Linked DNA regions of Homo sapiens. The protein of the gene in region 1 interacts with the protein of each later gene in a biochemical or structural test. Each region holds a gene or a part of one and is shown on either strand. Other genes may lie near its edges.

What was found.
Region 2: the proteins of LRRK1 (region 1) and VGLL4 form a complex in vitro, tested with the Homo sapiens proteins (2 studies listed by BioGRID and IntAct, with this or other methods).
Region 3: the proteins of LRRK1 (region 1) and CHGB form a complex in vitro, tested with the Homo sapiens proteins (2 studies listed by BioGRID and IntAct, with this or other methods).
Region 4: the proteins of LRRK1 (region 1) and CIMIP4 form a complex in vitro, tested with the Homo sapiens proteins (2 studies listed by BioGRID and IntAct, with this or other methods).

The regions. Positions count from the first base shown.
Region 1 is NC_000015.10:101,062,328-101,069,359, forward strand, and holds part of LRRK1 (leucine-rich repeat serine/threonine-protein kinase 1), read left to right. Parts: intron 1-246; coding exon 247-363; intron 364-1,074; exon of another isoform or gene 1,075-3,024; coding exon 3,025-3,878; intron 3,879-4,312; coding exon 4,313-4,414; intron 4,415-6,343; coding exon 6,344-6,521; 3' UTR 6,522-7,032.
Region 2 is NC_000003.12:11,556,901-11,563,932, reverse strand, and holds part of VGLL4 (transcription cofactor vestigial-like protein 4), read left to right. Parts: intron 1-4,477; coding exon 4,478-4,601; intron 4,602-5,065; coding exon of another isoform or gene 5,066-5,079; exon of another isoform or gene 5,080-5,105; coding exon 5,106-5,377; 3' UTR 5,378-7,032. UniProt on the Homo sapiens protein: May act as a specific coactivator for the mammalian TEFs.
Region 3 is NC_000020.11:5,921,489-5,925,864, forward strand, and holds the end of CHGB (secretogranin-1 precursor), read left to right. Parts: intron 1-846; coding exon 847-2,612; intron 2,613-3,483; coding exon 3,484-3,561; 3' UTR 3,562-3,865; downstream 3,866-4,376. UniProt on the Homo sapiens protein: Secretogranin-1 is a neuroendocrine secretory granule protein, which may be the precursor for other biologically active peptides.
Region 4 is NC_000022.11:37,004,846-37,012,036, reverse strand, and holds the start of CIMIP4 (ciliary microtubule inner protein 4), read left to right. Parts: upstream 1-4,185; 5' UTR 4,186-4,308; intron 4,309-4,380; exon of another isoform or gene 4,381-4,565; intron 4,566-7,191. Other genes in the region: TST (thiosulfate sulfurtransferase), read left to right, coding at 712-1,010.

The DNA.
Region 1 (7,032 bases):
TGTTGGTTTTCTCTGGGGAATAGATGACGGGCTATTTTCTGTTTCCTCTTTAGACTAGTCTGTCTTTTTCAACGTTTCTACAAAGAGCAGAAATCCATAAACAACCCACCAGAACGTGTCAATCCATGTAACTTTCCAAGACCCATAGGGGATCCCCAAGTCCAAGTGCATCCTCATGGGAATGGCTTGGGAAATGCCAGACACTTTCCAGCCTGGGTCTCACAGTGGACCTGTCTGCCTCTGCAGGACCAGAAAATCTACATCTACACCCTCAAGGGCATGTGCCCCTTAAACACACCCCAACAGGCCTTGGATACTCCAGCTGTCGTCACCTGCTTCTTGGCCGTGCCTGTTATTAAAAAGGTGAGGTCGGGGCAAAGGCAGGTATGCAGGTCTCTGATGCACTTCCACGCCTAGGAGGCGTCTCCTAGCTATGTCAGGGTGGCGCCTGCAGAGCCACACCTAGGACCACCTGGCCTAGGACGTAGACTTAGAGACGGTGGGAGGAAAGATATCAGACCTGGTCCGTCATTAGTGCCTTCCGGTTTGCAAAAACCTAAGTCAAGTCCCCAGCCAGACTGCAGGCCGAATGAAAAACCCCCTTTCACATGCAAATGCCCTGACTCAGGTGGAAGGACTGTTGGTACAAATGGCACGGTGAGCAGTCATGCGTGTGCCCTTCCCCTATCCGGAGCCTCTTCCCCACCTGCCCAGGCCAGAGCCACCTCACAGCCACTTGATCACCAGGTCCTGGAGGTCCTGATCTCCCTCCCTCCATCTCTGCCTCCCGCCAAGTACTCGCCGTCTTACACCAGACGCAGTTTCTCTTTGTGCAGCATAGCCCTGCAGACTCAGCTCTTTAACCTCCTAGCCCTGGCCTTTCTAAATGAGACCCCAAGGGGCACTCTCCCCATTAAAGGCCCAGCCAGCTGTGCTGCACCTTGGGATTAGCCCCAGCCTCTATGAGGCTGGCCTCCAGTCCCTGCTGGGCCCGGCACCCTCCCCACAAAGCACCCCACTCTGTGCTGGGCCCTTGACATCCCAGCCTCCTCCAGGAACAGCCCCTCCACGCACCTCTTCCCAGACGGCCTCCGATTCAGTTCTCAAGACCCGGGGCCTTGTCCCCTCCTTTGAGAAGCTGCCCCTCAGTGGGGGGCAGCTCCCTGGCTTTTCCGGGCTCCTCCGCCCACAGGATTCAGGCACGGCTCAGCCAGCTCTGGTTTCATCCACCCTGAGGGGCCTGTCTGTGCATAGGCGCCCTCACTAAATGCACAAGAAGCCTTTACTGGTGTTGCTTTGTTAAAATGTGACTGTCATCATCCAATTCCAGTTTGCCCATCTACAAAACAGGTATAAGAAGAGACAGAAGGCCTAGCATACCCAAAGGTCTAGGCCGGTGTGCTTGGTAAATGAGTATTATTATTACTTCTGGATGGTCGCAAAATACATGAACTCTTCTCTTCACCCTTCTTCAGTTTCATTTAAAAAAAAAAAAAACAGGTATGAAATGAACCTTAGAGTCATTTATGACCATGGCCCCACAGCGAGGCTACGCAGCTTGGGACCAGGCCCGTACCAGAGCGCAGGAGAACACGACACAAAGTGTTATTGAGGCCACCGCTGGCGAGAGCCCCCAGCCAGGGCACCACCTCCTGCACGACCAGAGGGAATAAAGCCTGCTCTGTGCAGGGCCTCCTGGGCAGGGTGTCTGCCCCCTCCAAGGCCGCCAGCGCGAAGCCTGCATTCTTGCACGCGCACCCACGTTCACACCCAGCCGGGACGTGGCACTCACCGCCCTGGCCGGGGCCTGAGCCAGGACTGCAGATAGAGACCTGGAGCCTGTTTGCCTTGGCTGCCTTCTTTCCCTAAAGTCCTGGGGATGGATTTCGATACGCTTTCTTAGAGCATGTTGTCCTGGACAGTGAGCTACGGGTCTCCACTCCATTGCCCTGCACAGCCAGCCTCCTGAGCTCCCCCAGCTCCCCACAAGGAGGCTTTCTGCCCTGCCCCCTCACTGGCATGAGGCCCAGCTCCCTGCTCTGCCCTGACTCCAGCTTTGTTCTGCAGACCTCTTCCCACCCCCACCACAGCCGACGCGGTGTCTAGGCTGCGGAGCTGCACTCTGTTCCTGGCTCTGCCCTGGGAGGTGCCCCGGGGCGGTCTGGGGTGGGCCCAGCATTCAGCAAGGTCCCTGCAACTTTGGCCTCTGCCCGGTGACCTCTGGCGGGTGTAGAAGAGCTCATGCTTCATTGAGGGGGTGGGGGGCACCCTGAGGACCCTGTCAACGTCAGCTGAACCACAGGCATCTCGATAGATGTAAGCTGGGATGAGGGCTCAGCAGGCTGAGACAGGCCTCCAGAAGAGGGTTGAGTAGGAAGCGATTTCTTCCAGAATTAGTTCAGCAAACACATGTCATCCACTTGGAGCAGGAGCCAGGTGGAGTCACAGGGCCACCAAGATGAAGGAGACTGAGCCCTTCCCTGTGCCAGGCTAGTGCCACGGGGATGCTGGTGGGCTGGGAGCCCATCCTTATGGAACACTCTGCCTGGTGGGGGGGGTGGCAGGCAGGGGGCAGTGCACAGATGCTTGCCATGCCCCCACTGCTGTCATGTTAAGCAGCACCGAGAAAAGGGCGGGGGCACCAGGTCCTGCCTCTGAAGGAGGCCTTGGTGGCCTCAAGGAGAAGGCAGCTCCCTGCTGCTCGCCCTGCAAGAAGCTGGCAGAAGCAGAGGCAGCCCATGTGGTCCAGGTGACACGCAGCCTTACTTGGTGCCACAGGCCCTGCCTCTGGGTGGCACATTCCTTTCTTTGCTGCAGGGATGGTAGATATGGCTCTGCGGAGTCAGAGCTGCACTTCTTTAGGAGTAGCCCCGGCCTTTCTAAGAGATTTGCTGCCCTGAGGCGCACTGGTGGAAAGTGACTGCCCGCCTGGTGTGGGTGCAGATGAGTCCAGTGCCTACTCTGTGTCTCTCTTGGAATGTGTGAAATGGAAGGATGTGACACATCCCTGTCTCCTTCCTTCAGAATTCCTACCTGGTCTTAGCGGGCCTCGCCGATGGGCTTGTGGCTGTGTTTCCCGTGGTGCGGGGCACCCCAAAGGACAGCTGCTCCTACCTGTGCTCACACACAGCCAACAGGTCCAAGTTCAGCATCGCGGATGAAGACGCACGGCAGAACCCCTACCCAGTGAAGGCCATGGAGGTGGTCAACAGCGGCTCTGAGGTCTGGTACAGCAATGGGCCGGGCCTCCTTGTCATCGACTGTGCCTCCCTGGAGATCTGCAGGCGGCTGGAGCCCTACATGGCCCCCTCCATGGTTACGTCAGTCGTGTGCAGCTCTGAGGGCAGAGGGGAGGAGGTCGTCTGGTGCCTGGATGACAAGGCCAACTCCTTGGTGATGTACCACTCCACCACCTACCAGCTGTGTGCCCGGTACTTCTGCGGGGTCCCCAGCCCCCTCAGGGACATGTTTCCCGTGCGGCCCTTGGACACGGAACCCCCGGCAGCCAGCCACACGGCCAACCCAAAGGTGCCTGAGGGGGACTCCATCGCGGACGTGAGCATCATGTACAGTGAGGAGCTGGGCACGCAGATCCTGATCCACCAGGAATCACTCACTGACTACTGCTCCATGTCCTCCTACTCCTCATCCCCACCCCGCCAGGCTGCCAGGTCCCCCTCAAGCCTCCCCAGCTCCCCAGCAAGTTCTTCCAGTGTGCCTTTCTCCACCGACTGCGAGGACTCAGACATGCTACATACGCCCGGTGCTGCCTCCGACAGGTCTGAGCATGACCTGACCCCCATGGACGGGGAGACCTTCAGCCAGCACCTGCAGGCCGTGAAGATCCTCGCCGTCAGAGACCTCATTTGGGTCCCCAGGTACGTTTCCCGAGGTGAGGGCACCATCCAGGGCACGCCCACTGCTCCTGCTCTGGGGACAGAGCAAGGGGAAGCCCCCTGGCTTCCTTACAGGTCATGTGGGGAGGCAGGTGCTGTTCTTCCAAGAGGGTTGGTTTCCTCCATTGGGAATGGAAGCGATCGCTTTAGCAAATCTAAGAGTGGCCGCACAAAAGCTTATTGCCTGCCAGAGAGCTTAAGGTGCCACACAAGGAAAGCCACAGTCAACTGTGACTCAGTTTCCACTGAGAAAATTCTCCTCTGCTTTGAAGTCTGTCCCCTCCCCATAACTTAATCCCTTAGCAGAAACTGCATGTCTGTTGCCTCCCTCCCGCACCTTTCTGCACACCGGCTTCACTCCCCGGAGAGCACGGCTACCGACAAATCGCTTCCCCTTCTGGGTTTTGGTTGCTTAGGCGCGGTGGAGATGTTATCGTCATTGGCCTGGAGAAGGATTCTGGCGCCCAGCGGGGCCGAGTCATTGCCGTCTTAAAAGCCCGAGAGCTGACTCCGCATGGGTAAGACTGAGTGGCAGCTCCTTTAGGACCCAGGCAGCAGCATGAGCACAGAAGGCCCTGCAGCCAGGTCCTGCACAGTGGCTTTGCTGCCCTTCCATTCTCCCAAATAGCATAGCCACTAACGTGGCTGTAAGGCAAAGTGGAAACAAGATGGGGCCCCTCAGACAGCTCCTAGGGGCTCCGCACTGGCCATGGCTGCCTGTTTCTGGAGTACCCAGTGCACCTGTAGATCAAGTACCCTACCTAGTACCCTACCTAACGAATGTCTCCAGGGCCAGAGTTCAGCTGCAATCGACATGCAGATGCATCCAGGTCATTGATTCACTGTTCTTCCTGCCAAGCAGGAAACCCTACCCGAGGTGTCCACCAGCCCACACAGCACCCTATGGGGACAGATGACACAGGCACACCTTGTCATCTCCAAGCCTGGGGTCTCAGCTCCTGCCCTTCCTGGGCTGAGACATAGCTCAGTACCTGTCTGTGGGTGGGGACCCCCAGGATTATGCCAGTCTCCTCTGTGAAGGTATGCTGGGCAGGGTGGCCTGTCCGGGACATGGTCTACATGGTTGCAGTGATGTGAGGCTGGCGCCAGCTGCAGCTCCCCACAGTGTTTACACCCCGCACTTTGACTACCGAGCCCCACACGGTAAATCTCCCCTACGAAAAGTCCTCAGTTCAAATGTGTGTGTGTGTGTGTGTGTGTGTGTGTGTGTGTGTGTGTGTACTTTGGAGCTCTTCCATTTCACACTAGGCCTGTTTCCCTGCAGCATGAGTTATCCCCCATCCCTGGGCAAGTGGGTTTTTATTTCATCTGGAGCATAAGAGGGTGGAGAAACACCAGTCAGCTTGCTTCTCCCAAAGCAGGACAATGACAAGGACATCCTTGGCAGTCGCACTCCCTTGCCTGCCAGCTTTGAACTTTTGCAGTGAGTCCTGGGCCAGTGACCCTTACTCTGTAAGTGGTTCTGGAAGCAAGATCTGGATCTGCTCCTGAGCTCTGGCAGAGCCTGTGGGTAGAAGCCTTGAACTGATGGAGTTCCCAGCTTGCAGGTCGGGCTTCTGGAGGAAATGGGTGTGCAGCACCCAGGTTAGGACCTTGGCATACCTGCCATTAATGTCCTAACGTTTAGCTGTTGTTTTTCTCCTATTCATCCCTAAAGCCAGATTTTACCTCTTTCTCGCTAGAGGGAGGCTCCTCCCCTAAGGGGAGGTCCTGGCAAGGCCACGCGGAGTGAGAGGTCCCTGGACATCCCAGTTTGCAGGAGCACCTCAGTGCCACGCAGGCCGCACACACGGGACACAGAGGGAGGAAAGGCAATTAGTATGTGCTTGGGGTGGGGCACCACCAGGGCAGGGAGGCCACACTGTGGCCCAAAAGGAAACCTGTAGCACACACCCACCGATCCTGCAAAACTGTCCACAGTTTCAAAAAATGTATATAGTGATGACTTTGGGGCAGTAGGTTTTCCATTTAATATATGATCCTGTATTTCCTAAGCCTGTAGAAACAGAATGAGAGAAGAATCTTACTGAGCTTAGTGGCAAGGGAGTTGAGTTAAACTCGGTCATGAGCCATTCACAAGCAGAAATTTGGGTCAGTGGTGTTTTCTGGACGCTTTGGGAGCTGAGTCAAGGATGCATGATCTGATTGCCTCTGTGGCCTTCCAGGGAGTCTGACTCTTACAGACAAAGCCCATGGACGCGAACTCATGCCCACAGCCCGTCTTTGGACTTTATAAAGCCTAAGCCCACAGGCTGGCCACTGGGGAGAAGTGGTGCATCTCAGCACACCCCAGAGAGGGCTGGCAAGCAGACACACTCCCCTGCCCTTAGCCAGCTCCGCCTTCCTCAGAAGGCACAGGGGGAGGGTCCCAACCCCACCCGAGTGGGAACCCCTGTGAGTTTCCTCAGACCCCCTTCTCTCTGCAGGGTGCTGGTGGATGCTGCCGTGGTGGCAAAGGACACTGTTGTGTGCACCTTTGAAAATGAAAACACAGAGTGGTGCCTGGCCGTCTGGAGGGGCTGGGGCGCCAGGGAGTTCGACATTTTCTACCAGTCCTACGAGGAGCTGGGCCGGCTGGAGGCTTGCACTCGCAAGAGAAGGTAATTCCTGTGGAATGACTGTCACACATCAGAGCTGGCTGGCCCGGGGCTGCAGCCTGACCCCTCTGCCATCGGCCTCTAGTTCTCCAAGGACCTAGAAGACAGATGGAGTTCTCCCCTGAACTCCTTGCTGCTAAGAAGTGCTGAGAAGTTACTCGCCTGGCGGTGGCTCCAGGGTTCTCTGGTTCTCTGGAGCAGAGTTCTCTGAATACCCCATCCCCCAACTGCTGATTTTACAGCCCCAGGGAAGACAGTGGTATCAGGCTGGGAGCGGCCTCCTCTGGCCTCCCCCATCAGTTTGCAGGAGCAGGGGTGCAGGATCCTGTTCTGAGCTGGGTCAAACAAAGCAGGGCCGGGCCTTCCTGCCATCCCCAGGTCTCAGATGGAATTACACTAGAGGCCCTCCGCTGGGAAGCACTTGAGGTAGGGCAGGAGGGGGGCTGTGACCCCTGCCCTTTCCCCGCCAGAGACCTCAGGCTCTCAGCACATTCCACAGGCTCCTGAGTCCCCGAGGC
Region 2 (7,032 bases), on another chromosome or scaffold:
GGTGTCCGTGTCTGATGGGGTCTGTTGAAACTGTGGGTGGGGTAGGCCCTGGGAGTTGGGAGAGGTGGTTCTGGTGCTTGGGAATCCTGGTGAAGCTGAGAACAGTTGCCCATCTTGCCTCAGAGCCTGACATGGTAATCCTGTTTGTTTGATTCATCCATTTAACAAAATGGCACAGACCCCTGCTGTGTGCCAGGGGGTACCAGAAGCCAGTCAAGCAAGATGCAGTTTTTGTTCTCAGCACGCTCAGTTTTAGTCTGGAGGAGAGATCGCTGATGTGTCTGATGGAACCCGAGGCCAAGTTATCACTGCTGTTCATTTCAACGTTTTACGAGCGCTCACCATTTACCCAGCCCTCTGCAGAGCAGAGCTGTGGGCAGCCAGAGACGTGTGTGTGGACACTGTCACGGCCACAGGGAGCTCCCAGTCTAATTGGGGAAATGGACATGAGAAGAGAGGATTGTGCTGTTGGGCAGCAGCAGGGGCTGGAACAGAGGCGTGTGCGCAGTGCGACCCACAGGGACCCGCTCACTGCTCCCCGGGGTGGGCAGTGGACCTTTCTGCTTTGGGAAGCTCAACAGGCATTGTAATGCTGCCATGAGCCATGGCCTGAACCGTGCAGGCAGAACCTGGCTCTCTGGCCATTGCCACTGCTGTTGGGGAGTCCCTGAAGGACACGGGTATGGAGGGGAGGATTCAGCTGTAATCTCGGAGCACCCACATCCAGCCTCTGGCCCTTGATGACCTGGGGGACATAACTGTGAGCCTTACAAGCTATCTCTGCCCACATGGTCAGGGTGGGCCCTTGGCGGGCTTAGTGTGTTCTTGGATGATTTATTTCCTTGACTCTTCAGGGCTCTTGAGAATCTTGCAGTTGGTTTTCGGTCACAGTTGCTTTGCAAAAACTGAACTGCTGAACAGAGTGGCCTGACTCTCTTTACCCTGTCTCCCTCTCCCCAGCCTGGAATGGGCCTGGCTGCCCACGGCACACGTGGCAAGGGCCCCTCCTTGTGCCTTGGGGCTCCTGAGCAGCTTTCCTAGGAGGAAGAACCTCGACCCCCCAGCTATATCTTTATGGGATCCTGGCCTGGACTGAGGACAAAGCCAGGGGCCACGGGGTACCCCAAGCTGCCCATTTTCCTGGGAAGGGCACAGTGGCCCTGACCGGAGCTGTCATTTTCGGCTGGGGTTGGTCAGTCCTGCCCTCCTTGCCGTGGCTGCTGTCAGCACATGTCATTCATGTCGTAACCATTCGTGGGGCTCCTTCCTGCGGCAGCGTGGCGGGGCTGAGGCCATGCACACCAATCCGAGCTGGGCTCGGGCGCCCTGCTGAGGACACCAAGCAGCCACGTTGCCTGTGCTCCAGCAGCTCCGAGGTCTCTTCCTGGAAGTCTGTTGGGTGTCATCCTGCAGCTCAGAGCCAGGGAAATGGCAGTGGGGAGGGGGCTTCCTGGGGTGACAGCAAAGCTCTGTGTCCACAGGCAGGCAGGACGCATGCTGCAGCCCTGTGGGGTGGGCACGGTGGAAGCCTTCCTCTGTGTGGCAGAAAATGTGTCTCAGATCTCTGGGAACTGGGACAGGAAAGTTCCCAGAGGGGCATGTATGGGGAGGCTACAGAAAGTGTCCCCCCATTTCATGTTTGTGATAGCAGCTCAGGACAGACAAACACCAAGAGGGTGGCCTTGGGCAGCAGCCAGTGAGGAGAGGCAAGATGGGGTTAAGCTTCGCACATTGAGGGCTGGGCACAGTGGCTCACACCTGTAATCCCAGCCCTTTGGGGGGTTGAGGCGGCGGATCACTTGAGGCCAGGATTTCGAGACCAGCCTGGCCAACATGGTGAAACCCTGTTTTTACTAAAAGTACAAAAATTAGCCAGGCGTGGTGGTGGGTGCCTGTAATCCCAGCTACTCGGGAGGCTGACAGGAGAATCGCTTGAACCCGGAAGGCGGAGCTTGCAATGAGCCAAGATCGCGTCACTGCACTCCAGCCTGGACGACAGAGTGAGACTTTGTCTTTAAAAAAAAAAAAAAAAAAAAAAAAAGTTTGGCGCAGCCAGCCTTGGGGGTTGCTTTCAGATAGGAGAGGTGGTGGGAGCCCTCTCCCCCGGGGCAGCCTCTGTCTGAGGACAGTCACAGGTGGGTGGGACAGCGGGTGAAGGGGTTAGTGACAGGGCTCATACTGGCCCTGCCACAAATCCGCAGCGTAACTTCCAACAGGGTGTTTCTGGCCTTCATTTTCCCCATCTGGAAAATAAGGGTGTGGGGGAGGGGAGCCTCGGGATCCCATAAACGCTCACCATCTGGAGGCCTGGGGCCCGTTCTAGGTGGACGAGTCCCAGCCTGCACTCAACCACAGAGGCAGGGGCAAGATGCCTGACTCCAGCTGGGGAGGAGGGGTGGTGGAGCCAGTCCCACGAGGGCTCACGGGCCACCCTGCAGCCTGGGTTGTGGGGAGGAGGAGAGGATGCCCAGACACTGAACATCTTCACATCTGCAGGTGACCGGTTAAGGCAATTCGCCCCAGCTCAGGTCAGGAGATGCCCTGAAGGTGGTCTGATACCAGTCAGCCAGCCTGCCCTGCTGGTCCCTTGTTAGAGAGTCTCTTCTGAAGTGGCCTTTCCTGCCTTGGATAGACTGACATAAAGGCTGGACAGTGAGCTCATTTCTTCATCTTCCTTGATTCCCCCTCCCTGTGCTCGAAATGTCTCCCCAGTTCCCCACATTTGCGTGGGTCAGGACACGCTCGCTGCAAAGAACAAGCCGGCTGAGCACAAAAGGGAGTTTTATTGGGAGGACCCTGGGGGGGGGTCTCCTAGAGCCCAAGGTCATGGGTGCAGCCAGGCTCAGGAAGGGCCTGGCCATCTCTGAGAGCTGGACAGGGGCAGGGCCCTCCTTCCTCCTGGCTCTGTGCGTGTCCAGGTCTCGGTATTCTGCTCTCTTGCTGCTGCTTGACCCCTGTGGTCAGCCAGTGTGAGATCTGCTCCAGGCCTCATCTGTCGGTCCCCAACCCCCTTTCCGAGCCTGTCTGCTCAGCATTGTGAAGTCTCTCACCCGAGGCCCTGTCCACAGGCAGAACGTGGACATTCAGCCCAGCTCCACCTGCCCGGGTTCTCTCTGCGCTGCCACCTGTGCACACCATGGAGGCCGTACGAACCCTGGGCAGCTCTGTCCCGCTGCTAAGTGTCGGGCCACTAAGAAACCCTGAATTCTTGGTTGGTCTGCTGTTGCTAAGCCACATCCCCCCCTACCCTGGCATGTGTCGCTTCTTGTTAGACCCAAGCACAGGTCCTTGTGTTCAATCCCAGTTCATCCTTGTGGATCCACATTTTCATCCTAGAATCCACTTTCACCATTCCCAATCACTGTCGTCTATCATGAGAAGGTCTGGCATGCAAGCCTTTTGTGTCTTTATACCAGCTACTGCTCTAACTTTAATGGAAAGGGCTGGCTGGGGAGGATAAGGCCCAGCGTCCCTCTGGCTGACACTGCTGTCACCATTGGTCCCTGTGGGGTGATTTCAACCAGCTCCTTGCTGGCTGTCCTGGAACTTAGCCCACATACTCCACCACCTTGTCCTCGGGGGTATTGGAAGATACTTTTCCTGGGGGAACCTGAGGAAGTTCTGTTTAGTTCACAAATATTTTCTGTCCCAGGTTCCACACCAAAGCTGGGGGGCCAGACATACTGCCTGGTGTGCATGGTCTTACGGGAGCACCTGGACAGACCGATGCACTTGCTGAATCTTGGTGGGTTAGGGGAGCAGGAGTGAAAAGCGGTGGTGGTGGGGCGGTGGCCAGTGAAAGGCTTCAGAGAGAGATCTGAACAGGGCTTGAAGGAACAAGGGGAGTTTGCCAGGCAGACAGCGTGGGGGTGGGGGTGAAGGAGAGAGTGAGGCTGTGCACAGGGCAGATCGGGCTGGGGTGGGATGTGTGCCGTTCCACACTTAGGCATATTTCCTCCATTTCCTCTCTGTCCCGATTTGTAGGTCATCACTGAGGCCAACTCGAGCTGGCTTTGGCTCAAGCAAAATGCTTCCAGTTAATTGCCGTGTATTGAAGTGTCCTGGATGGCTCCAGGCACACCCGCGGCTCAGTGGACATGATGGGAAGGGCTCTGGGGACGTTAACGGGAGAATCGAGGTCCCTCCTGCAACCCTCTGTCCTCCACAGGATGCCCGGTGTTTGTCTTAACAGATTTGAGAGATGGGGACAGACCAACTCAACAGTTGAGCTTTTGTCCTTTGTACCCTCACTGATCCAAACAGCCACGACCAAGGGCCACTACACACACCCTTGGAGCTGCGCTCACTCTGTGGATTGGCTGTGTTTAGCAACAGGACTCCAGTATTGAAGTGGGAGGTGGCAGACTGGGTCAGGAAGGGCACCAGGACAGAGCCTGAAGGGTGCTGGGGAGGGCCCCAGGGGTGGTGCCCGGTACTGAAGCTGGTCTCCACATACTGACACCCCTCCTCCCCGCAGAACCGGCCCTCCGTGATCACCTGTGCCTCGGCTGGCGCCCGCAACTGCAACCTCTCGCACTGCCCCATCGCGCACAGCGGCTGTGCCGCGCCCGGGCCTGCCAGCTACCGGAGGCCACCGAGCGGTGAGTGTCCCGGGCCTCCTCACCTGTCACAGCTGTGCTAGTGGCAGCAGAGCCCTTCTCTGTCATGCTGTTGGCTGAAACCTCTCGCCCCTGAGCCCATCTATTGCTGAGGTTGAAAAAGTATTTCTTGAGCACGTCCAGTGTGCGCCTAGCGTTGCGCATGACTTGGGTGGGAAGGGCATGAGAAACACACCGCCTCGCTCAGTTCCAGGGTCTCATGCCCTAGTTGCAGGGAGGGCAGCGGCTACTGTTATTTAAATTTAATGCCACATTCTCTTTCTGAACTCGGACTCTGGCCCAGTGCAGTTGGTACATCACCATTTTACAGAAAAGTGACCTGCCCAAGTGCCTGACTTAGCCGGGGGAGGTGGGTTCTGTCTGCAGAGCCCACGCTGACCGTGGCAGCCAGTCCGGCTCTGGGCTGCCTGAGGGAGGGTGCTGCAACCGTGCCTGTCTGTCTGCAGCCACCTGTGTCTGACTGCCTGCCTTCCTGCTTGCCTGCAGCTGCCACCACCTGTGACCCCGTGGTGGAGGAGCATTTCCGCAGGAGCCTGGGCAAGAATTACAAGGAGCCCGAGCCGGCACCCAACTCCGTGTCCATCACGGGCTCCGTGGACGACCACTTTGCCAAAGCTCTGGGTGACACGTGGCTCCAGATCAAAGCGGCCAAGGACGGAGCATCCAGCAGCCCTGAGTCCGCCTCTCGCAGGGGCCAGCCCGCCAGCCCCTCTGCCCACATGGTCAGCCACAGTCACTCCCCCTCTGTGGTCTCCTGAAGGGAGCGCCTCCTCCAACAACACGTGGATCTGCATGGTTTGCCTGAGCTTTGAACAGTCAGTACTTAAAAAAAAAAAAATCATGGGGGTGGGGTGGGGGGAAGGGAAGGGATGGTTTATTTGCAAAAACCATGTTGTTGGGATTTGTGTTCTGTTTTTGTACTTGCTTGGTATCCGTACAAGGGGGCCCTCAAACATGATAGCAGGAACTACGCGTGGAACATCTGTCTAATGTAGCATCCTTACTTCCTGCCTCAGTTACCAAAGAAACCTCTGATGCAGGTCTGCTGCCCCGACGGGGCCAGGACTCCACAGCGCTTTCTCAGTCACAAGCCATGATGAATTGGTGACTCAGACGCTTTGTGCTTTTTCCTTTGCTTCTTGAGACCGGGGTGTGTGTGGCTCAGCTTCCACGGCGTGTTTGGTTCGGTCCATGTGTGTGCGTGTGTATACTTGAAGAGAACTGTCGTGTCTGATTTGCACTATTGGAGGAGGACTAAAGTTGCCTGACAACTTTATGTGTTATGCCAGAACTCTGAGGGCAAACTGCTGAAAAACAAAGGGTTTAAGGATGACATTTCTGACCATTTGTGTGTTTGTTGTTGTTACTGTTTTTGTTTTTTTTAATGTAGACAATACAGCTTTGGAAGGGGAAGTCTCATACAGGTTATAGGTCTTTCTCTCTCTAGATTTCAGGTGCTTGCAACTGGACTGCAGACTCTACCAATCACGGGCATTTTATCTTCTCTGAACACTGCAGTTTGTTAGACTAGAGCTGAGGTTGGAGGATTCCATAGTGCTTTAAACGTGATGCATGTTTTAATGGAGAAAAAATAGCTGGTTTCTATTAATTATATAGACAGTAAACAAAAACCTTAATACTTACTATCTTCTTTTCAGAATTAGTTTATTTTTGTCAGTTACAGTCCTAGATATACTTACTGCTGGTACAGTTGTACTCTAAGATTGGTATTTGATATTCACTTTACTCACAAGTAGTGCGGGAGGCCAGCTCCTGGCAGGCCCTCGCGATGAGCAGTGGGTCAGCTGCGGTGTGGGATGCTGGAGTTTGGCTGCAGGCTGACATCATTTATTTTTGCATCCCTGTCTGCTTTGTTACAAGCTCCCAGGGGAGGTGGGGTTTGTGTCTTCCAACTTCCCTACATGCAGAAACTGCTCCCTTTGAACTCTCTTGGCTGAACAGCAGATTACTGACAGACAATCTGTGATATGGTGTTTTATACGCTTCCTCGTACGCTGGGGCCAAGGCAGTATACATTCCTCTGACTTTATACTGTTATTACTGCATTTATTATTTGCTATATTAATAGCTACTAACTAGAAATTAGATGAAGCAAGCATGACAGACACAGCTGTGGAGGTCACAGCTGCTCCTTTTTGGTCAATGAGCGTTTCTATCCCCTCCCCCTGGGGTGTGCTGTGTCCCACCTGGCCCACCAGAGGCTCACGACGATGGCACCTGACCAGGTGACGTGGGCGTGGTCACCTCACCTGCAAGGCTTTGTGGACTCTGCACACCGTATGACCCCCGGTTTTACAGTTTTTAGCTGTTGAATTTTGGAAATTGGCACTGGGTGAAAAGGTCGGAGGACTGGCTCTTGTAGTCACAGAGTGGCTGCAGGCCTTTGAAAAGT
Region 3 (4,376 bases), on another chromosome or scaffold:
AGGACTTAGTAAAGGAGCTATTGATATTTGGAAAAGATGGACGAGAACAGCATTCAATTAAAATATCAGTTATACCATGTACTCTGACTCTGGAAACACAAAGATAACTCACTGTGCTGAAGTCTGTCCCCAACATCTGAGAACATGTTGGGTGGATGGAACCTGAGTGAAGAAAGAAATGGCCCTTTCCACTGATGTGCAGTTTTCTCAGGCAAGAAATGTACACCCTTATCACCAGCTACTAAGTTATATATCACATACTGCTAGGTTGAGCCTACAGTTGATTGGATAATAAAAGTCTGATATAAACTAATAATTTCAAATGTTTAAATCCTCCTTTGAATCTTGATATTTCTTATTTTGGCTAGTTAACTATCTAGCTGGATTATTGTTAGAGCCATTCACATAGTGCTAACTTTTTAACTCCTACTTGAAGAAAATATGGAAAGAATGGTCTTGGATTATACCATGCTGAGTCTCAATGTCTGCAAAAAGAAGAGGTTGGACTGGATTAGATGAATTCTAAGATGTTTCCTGCCTCTAAATTCTAATATTTCATAAATCTATATCTCGATTTCAGTTTGATCATTGGTAGTACCAATGAGAGAAGCTGGCTGGGCATTATGAAGACATAAAAATATAGACAGTTTATTACCAGATTTAAACACAGTCAAGGAGCTTTCATAGCATTTACTTTCAAAAGGAATCTGAGTATATTCTTCATTAACTTAAATAATTATCCAAGCAATTTTCAGTGTCATCAGGATTTGTAGTGATTACTGAGGCTGGTGCTTGTGGAACCACAAGCAATTCTGAAATTATACCTACTCTTCATTTTCATTATAGGTAGAAAAGACGTCAAAGACAAAGAGACAACTGAAAATGAAAACACAAAGTTTGAAGTAAGATTGTTAAGAGACCCAGCTGATGCCTCGGAAGCCCACGAGTCCTCCAGCAGGGGAGAGGCAGGAGCCCCAGGGGAGGAGGACATCCAAGGCCCAACAAAGGCAGACACAGAGAAATGGGCAGAGGGAGGCGGGCACAGCCGAGAGCGAGCGGATGAGCCCCAGTGGAGCCTCTATCCCTCCGACAGCCAAGTCTCTGAAGAAGTGAAGACACGCCATTCTGAGAAGAGCCAGAGAGAGGATGAGGAGGAGGAGGAGGGAGAGAACTATCAAAAAGGGGAGCGAGGGGAAGATAGCAGTGAAGAGAAACACCTTGAAGAGCCAGGAGAGACACAAAACGCTTTTCTCAATGAAAGAAAGCAGGCTTCAGCTATAAAAAAAGAGGAGTTAGTGGCCAGATCGGAAACACATGCTGCCGGGCATTCTCAGGAGAAGACACATAGCCGAGAGAAGAGTAGCCAGGAGAGTGGAGAGGAGACAGGGAGCCAGGAGAATCACCCCCAGGAGTCTAAAGGCCAACCCCGAAGCCAGGAAGAATCTGAGGAAGGTGAGGAAGATGCCACCTCTGAGGTGGACAAACGACGCACGAGGCCCAGACACCACCACGGGAGGAGCAGGCCCGACAGGTCCTCTCAAGGAGGGAGTCTTCCCTCTGAGGAAAAGGGACACCCCCAGGAGGAATCTGAGGAGTCAAACGTCAGCATGGCCAGTTTAGGGGAAAAGAGGGACCACCATTCAACCCACTACAGGGCTTCAGAGGAAGAACCTGAATATGGAGAAGAAATAAAGGGTTATCCAGGCGTCCAGGCCCCTGAGGACCTGGAGTGGGAGCGCTATAGGGGCAGAGGAAGTGAAGAATACAGGGCTCCAAGACCTCAGAGTGAGGAGAGTTGGGATGAGGAGGACAAGAGAAACTACCCCAGCTTAGAGCTTGATAAGATGGCACATGGATATGGTGAAGAAAGTGAGGAAGAGAGGGGCCTTGAGCCGGGAAAGGGACGCCATCACAGAGGCAGGGGAGGGGAGCCACGTGCCTATTTCATGTCTGACACCAGAGAAGAGAAAAGGTTCTTGGGTGAAGGACACCACCGTGTCCAAGAAAACCAGATGGACAAGGCAAGGAGGCATCCACAAGGTGCGTGGAAAGAGCTGGACAGAAATTATCTCAACTACGGTGAGGAAGGAGCCCCAGGGAAGTGGCAGCAGCAGGGAGACCTGCAGGACACTAAAGAAAACAGGGAGGAAGCTAGGTTTCAAGATAAACAATATAGCTCCCATCACACAGCTGAAAAGAGGAAGAGATTAGGGGAACTGTTCAACCCATACTACGACCCTCTCCAGTGGAAGAGCAGCCATTTTGAAAGAAGAGACAACATGAATGACAATTTTCTCGAGGGTGAGGAGGAAAATGAGCTGACCTTGAACGAGAAGAATTTCTTCCCAGAATACAACTATGACTGGTGGGAGAAAAAGCCCTTCTCTGAGGATGTGAACTGGGGGTATGAGAAGAGAAACCTCGCCAGGGTCCCCAAGCTGGACCTGAAAAGGCAATATGACAGGGTGGCCCAACTGGACCAGCTCCTTCACTACAGGAAGAAGTCAGCTGAGTTTCCAGACTTCTATGATTCTGAGGAGCCGGTGAGCACCCACCAGGAGGCAGAAAATGAAAAGGACAGGGCTGACCAGACAGTCCTGACAGAGGACGAGGTATGGTCTAGGGCTTCTGTTTAAAAGTACTTACTCTGGTCAATGTTAGCACATTATGTTCAAGACTATCCGATATTCACGGGGAGAAATTGGTGGGAATTAATCACTATGAAAATGGTGCTCTAGTAATGGAGTGGAGGCCACCTTGGGGGTCGGTTTCCACCTACCTCTAGCCATCGTCCACATCCTTGTCCACCTCACTCGGTTGCATTGCTTCTCAACCTTGTCTGCACACTGGGGTCACCTGGAGAGCGTGAAAAATTACTGTGTTAGAGATTCTGTCTACTTAGTTCCTAGGGTGCTGCCTGATCATCAGAATATTTTAAAGCTTCCAGATGATTGCAGCGTTCAGCCAACGTTAACAACTGCTGTTCTGGTATCTTCCCCTTGGTCCTCTTATTGTTCATCACTCTCTCCCTGAGGCAGGGAGAATAGGTGATAGAGAAGTTTACTTGCTTGCCTATTTAGTTTGCTATCTTTATTATTTCATGCCCTACTGCCATCAGAAATTTGTATCTGGGAGAGGTAACACTACTGGAGCTGAACCTACCCAAACAATGTTTTTTTTCCTAATATTGATTATGTAGGTTGGTGCTTCTCAAAGTTGAATGTACATTAGGATCATGAGGGATTCCTAGCCCCCAGAGTTCCTCATTTAGTAGGTCCCAAGTGAGACCCCAATATCTGCATTTCTGACAAGTTCCTGGCTGATGCCACTGGTCAGGGGACCACACTTTGAGAGTTACTGAGGTAGGTTGACTAATGCAGCTTCTAACATGCCTAAAATTCCCCTTTGCACTCATGCTCCATCAAACTACAGCAAAAGAAATTGGTTCGGGACCTCATGCCTCCACTTTTCTGTATTTTCCAGAAAAAAGAACTCGAAAACTTGGCTGCAATGGATTTGGAACTACAGAAGATAGCTGAGAAATTCAGCCAAAGGGGCTGACTGTCATTGGAGCGGTGGGCACTGTTAAGAAGCAGCCATCACATGATCTGTTTTTCACCACTTCACTGAAAGACACCATTTATCTACCCAAGGGCAGAAAGTAGAACTTACTATTCATTAAATGTTTGACACAATTGGAATTGTCTTTAATTTCTGTCAGAATGCTATTGAAAATGTGAATTGCATGACTTGTAGCATATTCTTTTCTGCAAAATAGACATATTAACATGCTTATGACAATGACTGTGCTACTGTCTTTGGAAAAATGTTTGTCTCAGTTGGAAATAATAAAAGATTCACCTGAGACCAAAAGCTTCATTGTTCTCAGCTTCTTTTGGGCAAAGAGAGAGGTGTGTGACTTTTCAAATCTATTCTTTGAAGTAAATTGCAAAAGATGGCCCTAGGATTTGTTGGGTTTTGGATGCATAATAGAATAAAAAAGCAAACCTTTTGAAGTAATGTGCAGGATATAAAGAGAAATAGATTAGAAAAAGACATCTACTCCCCCATGCTGAGAGAGATTACAGGGGCTTGAAGAACCTGTTTCAAAAACAATCATAAGATATTACTTTAAAAATTCCTTTATCTAAAGAGCTCTACAAGTAGCCAGCCAAAGTTCATTTTTCAGGGCTGAGAAGAAAGCTTGGATAATGGGAAGAATTCCGGGGTGGGAGTGAAAACATCTGGATTGTCAAGACAGATCCCTGGCCCCTCAGATCTTGTCTGATTTCTACTCCTTAAGAAGATAGAGGCAGCTGGGTGCGGTGGCTTACAGTTGTAATCCTAGCACTTTGGGAGGCCCAGGCAGACAGATC
Region 4 (7,191 bases), on another chromosome or scaffold:
CATAACTTGCTCCAGTGGGATTTGACCTCACATCTGACACCAGGTCACTTGCTCTTTCTGCAACTGTGTGCTTAACAGAAAACCAGAGGCCCCGATGTAATCCTGGGTCTGCCTTCATCTTTCTGTGTGGCCTTAGGTGAGCCGTGTTGTTTTGCCAAGACTCAGCGGATTCATCTGTAAAATGGGGACATATCTGATTAGTTATGTGGTTATCTGTTTAGCATCTGCCTTTCTTGTTAGACTGGAATCTCCCAGAGGGCCTGGCTGTGTCTCTGCCTTTCACCGCTGTGTTCTCAGCACATAGCATTTGCAATAAGTTGTCCCATTTGCTCTTCTCAACATGGCTGTGAGATAGGTATGTACCACTGAGCCCATTTTACAGATGAGAAAACTGAGGTTCAGAGAAGTGAAATGATTTGCCCAAGGTAAAGGTTAGTGGAGCTGAGACTCATGCCGCTGTCTTCTCAAGCAGGTGTGATTTTGGGCATCTCTACTTCAAGACAGGTGTTAGGAGAGGAGTTGCAGGCATCTTAAGTCATGAGAAATGATAATAGGTGGGGCTGGGAATAAATTGAGCTCCAAGCAGAGCAAAGATGTTATTTTTATTTGCAAAGCTATCTATCCTTCCAGCTATAGCTGATGGAATCCTCCAGGCCCCATTAGTCCCCACCCCTCATACATCCCCTAAGCTGTGTCCTCTGCCCTGCCCAGGACTGGACTCGGGCCATATCCGTGGTGCCGTCAACATGCCTTTCATGGACTTCCTGACTGAGGATGGCTTCGAGAAGGGCCCAGAAGAGCTCCGTGCTCTGTTCCAGACCAAGAAGGTGGATCTCTCGCAGCCTCTCATTGCCACGTGCCGCAAGGGAGTCACCGCCTGCCACGTGGCCTTGGCTGCCTACCTCTGCGGCAAGCCTGATGTGGCCGTGTACGATGGCTCCTGGTCCGAGTGGTTTCGCCGGGCCCCCCCAGAGAGCCGTGTGTCCCAGGGAAAGTCTGAGAAGGCCTGAGCCGTGACCTCTTCTGCTTACTGTAACTGCGGCCGGTTTAGTGACCCCATGACTTACAGCCGGTTCTTACCTCTTAGGTGAAGGAGATGACATGTTTTTAGAATTGCTGTGCAAGGCTCACCCTCTCTCTGTCAACACTGGAATAAACTTTGCCTTTTCTGAGTAGTGTGTTTGCCTGCCTCTCTCTGGGCTCCATCCTTGCCCCCAAACTTCCATCTCTTTCAAACTCCGGAGACTCCACCAAGGACAGAGACCACCATAGCCCCTCTGGCTGGGGAAGCCATACCGAGGACACCACTTTCACCCAGTTTTGGCAGAAACAGCCTCCTGCTGTCCCATGTCAGGTGGACTCTGTCCCAGAGCATGCTGGGTCCTACCAGGAAGACAGGTGGGAAGGGAACCAGAAAGCCAGAGAGCTGAAGCCCCAGCTGCTGTAGCCCCAGCCTCCTGGGTAGGGGCGGAGGGACAGCTGGCTTTCCCAATATGTCCATAGAGGTGTCACACAGACCCAGGGCCTCTCAGAAGAGGCCATGCTCAGGAGCAGGTGAAAGGAAGGTGGCCTCTGTCTCGAGCACCTTTTCTGGCTCAGAGTAAGACCCCCTGGGGAGCAGTGGAGGGAGGGGCTGGAGAAAGAGCTTTGGCCCTGGGAGAAGGTCCAGGCTCTGGCAGGTGAATCAGGAAGCCACAGTAGAAGAAAGCAACCTGATAGCTTGGCCCCATGTGGCTGGATTTCAAGTTTCCCAGAAACAGCCTCTCTTAGACCTCCTTTGGGGTTGCAAGAAGAATTCCGGGCCCCACCTACTGGGGACTACCGGCTCCCCACTATCCAGCCTTCCCAGTGAAGACAGGATCCTGGAGGGCCGGAGACCAAGTCTGTCCTTGGCTTGGCATTGGGGCAAATAGGTGCTCAGGAGATGCTGAGGAGGTTGGTTTTGGGGCTGGCAGGTTGGGTGATGGGGCTGAATGCTGAGGCCGGTGGGACCTGTAGTGGTGGGACTGGTAGTCTGGAGGGTTGACCCCTCTCACTTCCATGCCACTAACAAAACAGTCCTCTTCCCAGCTCACATGTGGCTCAGATCCTACTGTGGGAAGAAGAAGCAAATATACACAGTATGTCAGATGGCAATAAGGTGCAATGGTAGAAAAGGTTGGAAAATAGGAGTAGGGAGTGTGGGGTGGGCTGGGATGCTTTTTAAGAAAAGGTGGTCTGGGAAGGTGAGCAGAGTCTTGAAGGAGGTGAAGAGGCAAGCCATGTAGGCATGTGGGGGAAGGAAGTTGCAGGAGAGGAGAGGGAACAGCCCGTGCAAAGGCCCCGAGGAGGGACTGTGCTTGGTGTGCCCAAAAAACAGCAGAGCCTGGCATGGCAGGGACCCAGGGAGCACTTGGGAAAGTGAGAGGAGCAGAGGTCAGAGAAAAATGGTGGACAGGTTGGGTAGGGCCTTGCAGATAAATGGGAGGATGTCAGCTTTTACTGTGGTTGAGCTGGAAGGTTTTGTTTAGAGGGGTGACATATGATCTAATATAGGTCTTAACAGGATTGCTGGGCTGTTGAGTGAGAAGACTGTCAGAGGATATGGTGGACTCCAGGGTGGTCCCCATATTATCTGCCCCCTCGTGTTCATGCCCCGTGTGACCCTCTCCCTTTCACTGCGGGTGGGACCCGTGACTTGCTTTTAACCAACAGCCTACGGCAAAGGTGATGGATGCCACTTCTGTGACTATGGTACACAACATTGTAATGCCCCATCTTGCAAGGGGACTCCCTCTTTGCTGGCTTTGATGAAGTCAGTGTCATGTTGGTGTTGGGGGGCCCACATAGCAAGGAACTGAGGATGGCCTCTGGCTGACAGCCAGAGAGAGCCTGAGACCCTCAGTCTAACAGACTGCAAGGAACTGAATCCTCCCACAGCCACATGAGCTTGGAAGCATATTCTTCCCTAGTGGAACCTCAGATGAGACTGCAGCCCTGGCCAATACTTGGATTGTAGCCTGCTAAGACCCCAATGCAGAGAACTCAGCTAAGCCATGAGTAGACACCCGACCCAAAGAAACTGTGAGATAACAGTTGTATGTTAAGCTTCGAAGTTTATGGCAAGATTGTCGTGCAGCAATAGATAATACTTAGGCAAGAGATGAGGGTGGCTTGGACCAGGGAGTAGGGGGAGTTGTGGAGGTGGACGAAGGCATCCAAATCTAGTGTACTTCGAAGGACTTGCTGATGGGTTGCTTGCGGAAGTAGCTTAGAGTTTTGTGATGTCTCTCTCTGTGCAAGGCAATGTGCTACATTTTGCAAAAAATTGTTTTATTCGCCCATCACCCTTATCCTTAGTGTTGGGTGATATCTGTTTCACATGTGAAGGAAGTTCAGCTAAAGGACTTGGCCAGTCTCTTATCTAATAAGTGACAGGCCCAGATTCTGGGGACTCCAAGTTTAACCACAGCACTCTCTGTTTCCTGGGGAAATCCTGAAAGGCTGGGCTTGCAGGAGGCGTTCACTATACCCACTCTTTGTCCAGGCTGAGCAACAGCCAGACAGGAATGGGCCAGTGCTGGCACCAATGACTTCTGCCTCCTTCTTCTCTGCAGAAAAGAAGTCACTTAATTTTGTTGATCTCCTTCTGTAGCCCTTGTTGTTTAGGAATAGGAGAGAGGACCCTTCCTTTAGTTTTACTCCCAGGTCCCTGATCCCTGGGTGTCCAAATCAGACAGCTCCAGATGCATCTTTCTCCTTCCCCATTGACCTCGACCTACATTTATGCTGTTATACACATCCATGCCTTTAATATTCTCATCCCTTCAAAACTGTTAAGTTCCTAGGCATCCTTCAAGATCCAACTCAAATGGCTCTTTCATAAGTCCTTCCTCCTTTTTCCTACACAGAGCTAGTTCTTCTCCCTACTTAGTGCTTTGAGCTCCCAAGAACATCTTTTGCACTTGGTAGCATCTGAGCCCCCTGTGCCTGGCACACCTGGCATGTAGTGGGGGCTCAACTGACATTCTAGAGTGGATGAGAGAGTGAACAATAATTGAAGCCCCTCCTGCCTTTTCCTGGCCTCAATCCTGGCTTTCTCCTGGCCTCTTTTCCCTACGGGTGGGCCTATCAGCCCTCTGAGGTAACAGAGCCCTGTGTATAGTGATCACCATGGCAACTCCAATGAACATCTTGGGGAGGGCCACTTCCCAGCAACCATCCATTGGTCTTCACCAGTAGTTCTGCAGTGGGGATCTGCACTTCTGGGCTTCAGCACACATCAGTGTGGTTCACGTGTTTCCTGCTGTTATGAAAGAGATTGGAGAGGTGAGGCAGAGACTTATGAAGGGCCAGGGTTCTTCCAGGACATGGGGTTTCATCTTCCTTCTCCCCATTCAGAGTTGCTTGTGAGTGAAGACTGCCTAGACTGGACTTACCTTCCCGCCCTCTTTGACCAAAGTCTCTTGGGATCTCTCTCTCTGGGTCAGAAACTGGAAGTGAGTCCACACTTCCATTGTAGCCCGTCCAGACTGCTGTGGACTGGCAGTGCACTGGGACGTACAGAGCTGCCGTGGGCACGTCAGGTTGGTGGCTGGGGATAGGAGGAGAAAGAAAACTTGGAGCTAACTTGAACTTCACCTAGCTTGAAGATGTGCAATTTAATTTTAGCCCCACCTGGTGAAGTCCTGTGTCTTTTCGGAGCCTCATTTTCTCCATCTGTGAAAGAAGATAAATTAGTAGTGTCTCCGAACACCTTACTGGGTATTTGTGAAGACCAGACTAATTTACCAGATGTGAGAATGCTTGACATGGACTTGTGTTAGTTATCTCTTGCTGCACAACAAATCACCCCAAAACTTAGTGGGCTTAAGACAACATTTACTATCTCACAGTTTCTGTGAGTTGGGAATACCGGTGGAGTGTTGGTGATTTTTCTGTCCCAGGGTCTCTCACAGGCTGCAATCAAGGTGTTGCTTGGGTCTCTAGTCTCATCTCAAAGCTCGACCAGAGAAGGAACCCATTCACATGGCAGGATCCAGCTACTCTGGAGCTGTTGGCAAGAGGCCACTCTGAGTTCCTTGCCCTGTGGACCTCTCCATAGGGCATCTCACAACAGGGAAACTGGCTTCTGTCAGAGAAGATGAGCTGAGGAGAGCTGCAGAGAGTGTGTGAAAAAGACAGAAGTTGTAGTCTCTTATAAGTTCATCATGGATGCAACATCCCTCATTTTTGCCACATTCCATTCATCACTATGTCCAGTCCACACCAAAGGGGAGAGAATTATACCAAGAAACAGGGATCATTGGGAGCCATGTCAACTGCCTGCCACTCTCTGCCCTCTGGCCCCCAATAATGTACATCCCTTCCACATGCAAAATATAGTCATCCCCTCCTAAGATCTTTAAAATTCTCATCCTATTAAAGCATCAGTTTAAAAGCTAGAATCTGGTCATATAAATCAGCTCCAGGTGTGGCTGAGGCTCCTCCAGTGTCGTTCCTTAAGTACAGCTTCTCAGATTCAATTCTTCCCCATCATAGATCTGTGAAACTAAGTAATTTGCCCTGAACACACCTAACATACAGTGATGTGATAGGCATAGGATAAGAACTAGTGACATTCCTATTCAAAATTGAGGAAAATGGAGACATGGAGTCAATGTTCCATAGCGGTTTTGAAATCCAGCCACACAAATGTTGGACATTCCTTGATTAGGTTTCAAGGCCTGGGGATAATTCTCCATGGCTCTCAGCTCTGCCTTCTGGACTCTTGCATCCACTCTCTGACTTGTCTTTTTTATTTTTATTTTTTGTTCAATGGTATCTTTTCATTTTGTACTGTCTCTATCCCTTTTACCCGAAGTTGCCAACATTTTGCTGATGTTATTTTCTCAACAGTAAAACTTACAGGGGTTCACTCCATTGAACAAAAGTCACACCCCTTTTTAACTGAGGCTCCTGTTGAGGAGCCTTAAGCTTCCTAGAGGTCCTATGGTTCTGTTAAGAGGATATATCAGGCATCTCTTTAATCTCTTTAAAGCACCCTTTGTTTGACAGAGTAATACCCTCATCCTTTGATCTTTCTGAAGTTTTAACAACAGGTCGCACAGTCACACTCCTGGGCACACTTTCCAGACAGCCTTCTGAAGCTATTTCTTAATTTTAGCATCTTTTGGGATCTGGAAAGGATGAGACTTCAGAACCATTAAGTACTGGCATCTTTTTGTTTAACAGTCCCTTCTTCAATTCATCACCTTCCTCTCACATTTCACTACAAGCAGCAAGAAGAAAGTAAGAGGCAACTACCATCTTTTCTTTGGAACTCTTTAGCTAAATCATTCAGTTCATTAGTCACATAACTGCAGATGACAGTGTCACTGTTTCTGCCACTACATAACAAGGGTCTTTCTTCCACTATTTCTAGTAATATATTCCTCACTTCCATTTGGGCCCTCACTCACTGCATCTTCCAACTCCAGATTTCTGCTTAAAAAAAAAAAAAAACTGTTTAAGGTGATTTAGGCTTTTTCTATCATGCTTCTCAAAATCCTTATAGACTCTGACCACCGCTTGGTTCCAAGTTCAGTCCCAAATTTTTAAGTATTTGTTATAGCAACACCCCACTGTTAGTACCAAAATATGTATTAGCTATGTATTGCTGCGTAACAAATGACCATAAAGCTTAGAAGTTTGACACTGTATGTTTAAAACAGTACAAATTTATGATCTCAGAACTTATAGGAGTCAGGATGCTCACTTGGCTGGGTCCTCTGGCCCAGGGTATCCCACAGGCTGTAATGAAAGTGTCATCCAGGCTGTGTTCTCATATCAAGGCTCAACTGGGGAAGGATCCACTTTCAAGCTCATTCAGGTGTCAGGATTCATTCAGTTCTTCAAAGACTGTTGGACTCAGGGCTTCTATTCTTTATGAGCTTTTGGCCAGAAGTCACCCTCAGTTTCTTGCTCCATGGGCTGCTCCACAGGGCAGCTCAAAACACGGCATTTGCTGTCATCAGAATGAGCAAACCAAGGAGAACCAGGGAAAGAGAGCAAACAAAACCGAAGTCACAGGCCGGGCACGGTGGCTCACACCTGTAATCCCAGCACTTTGGGAGGCTGAGGCGGGTGGATCACTTGAGGCCAGGAGTTAGAGATCAGCCTGGCCAACATGGTGAAACCCTGTCTCTACTAAAAATACAAAAATTAGCCAGA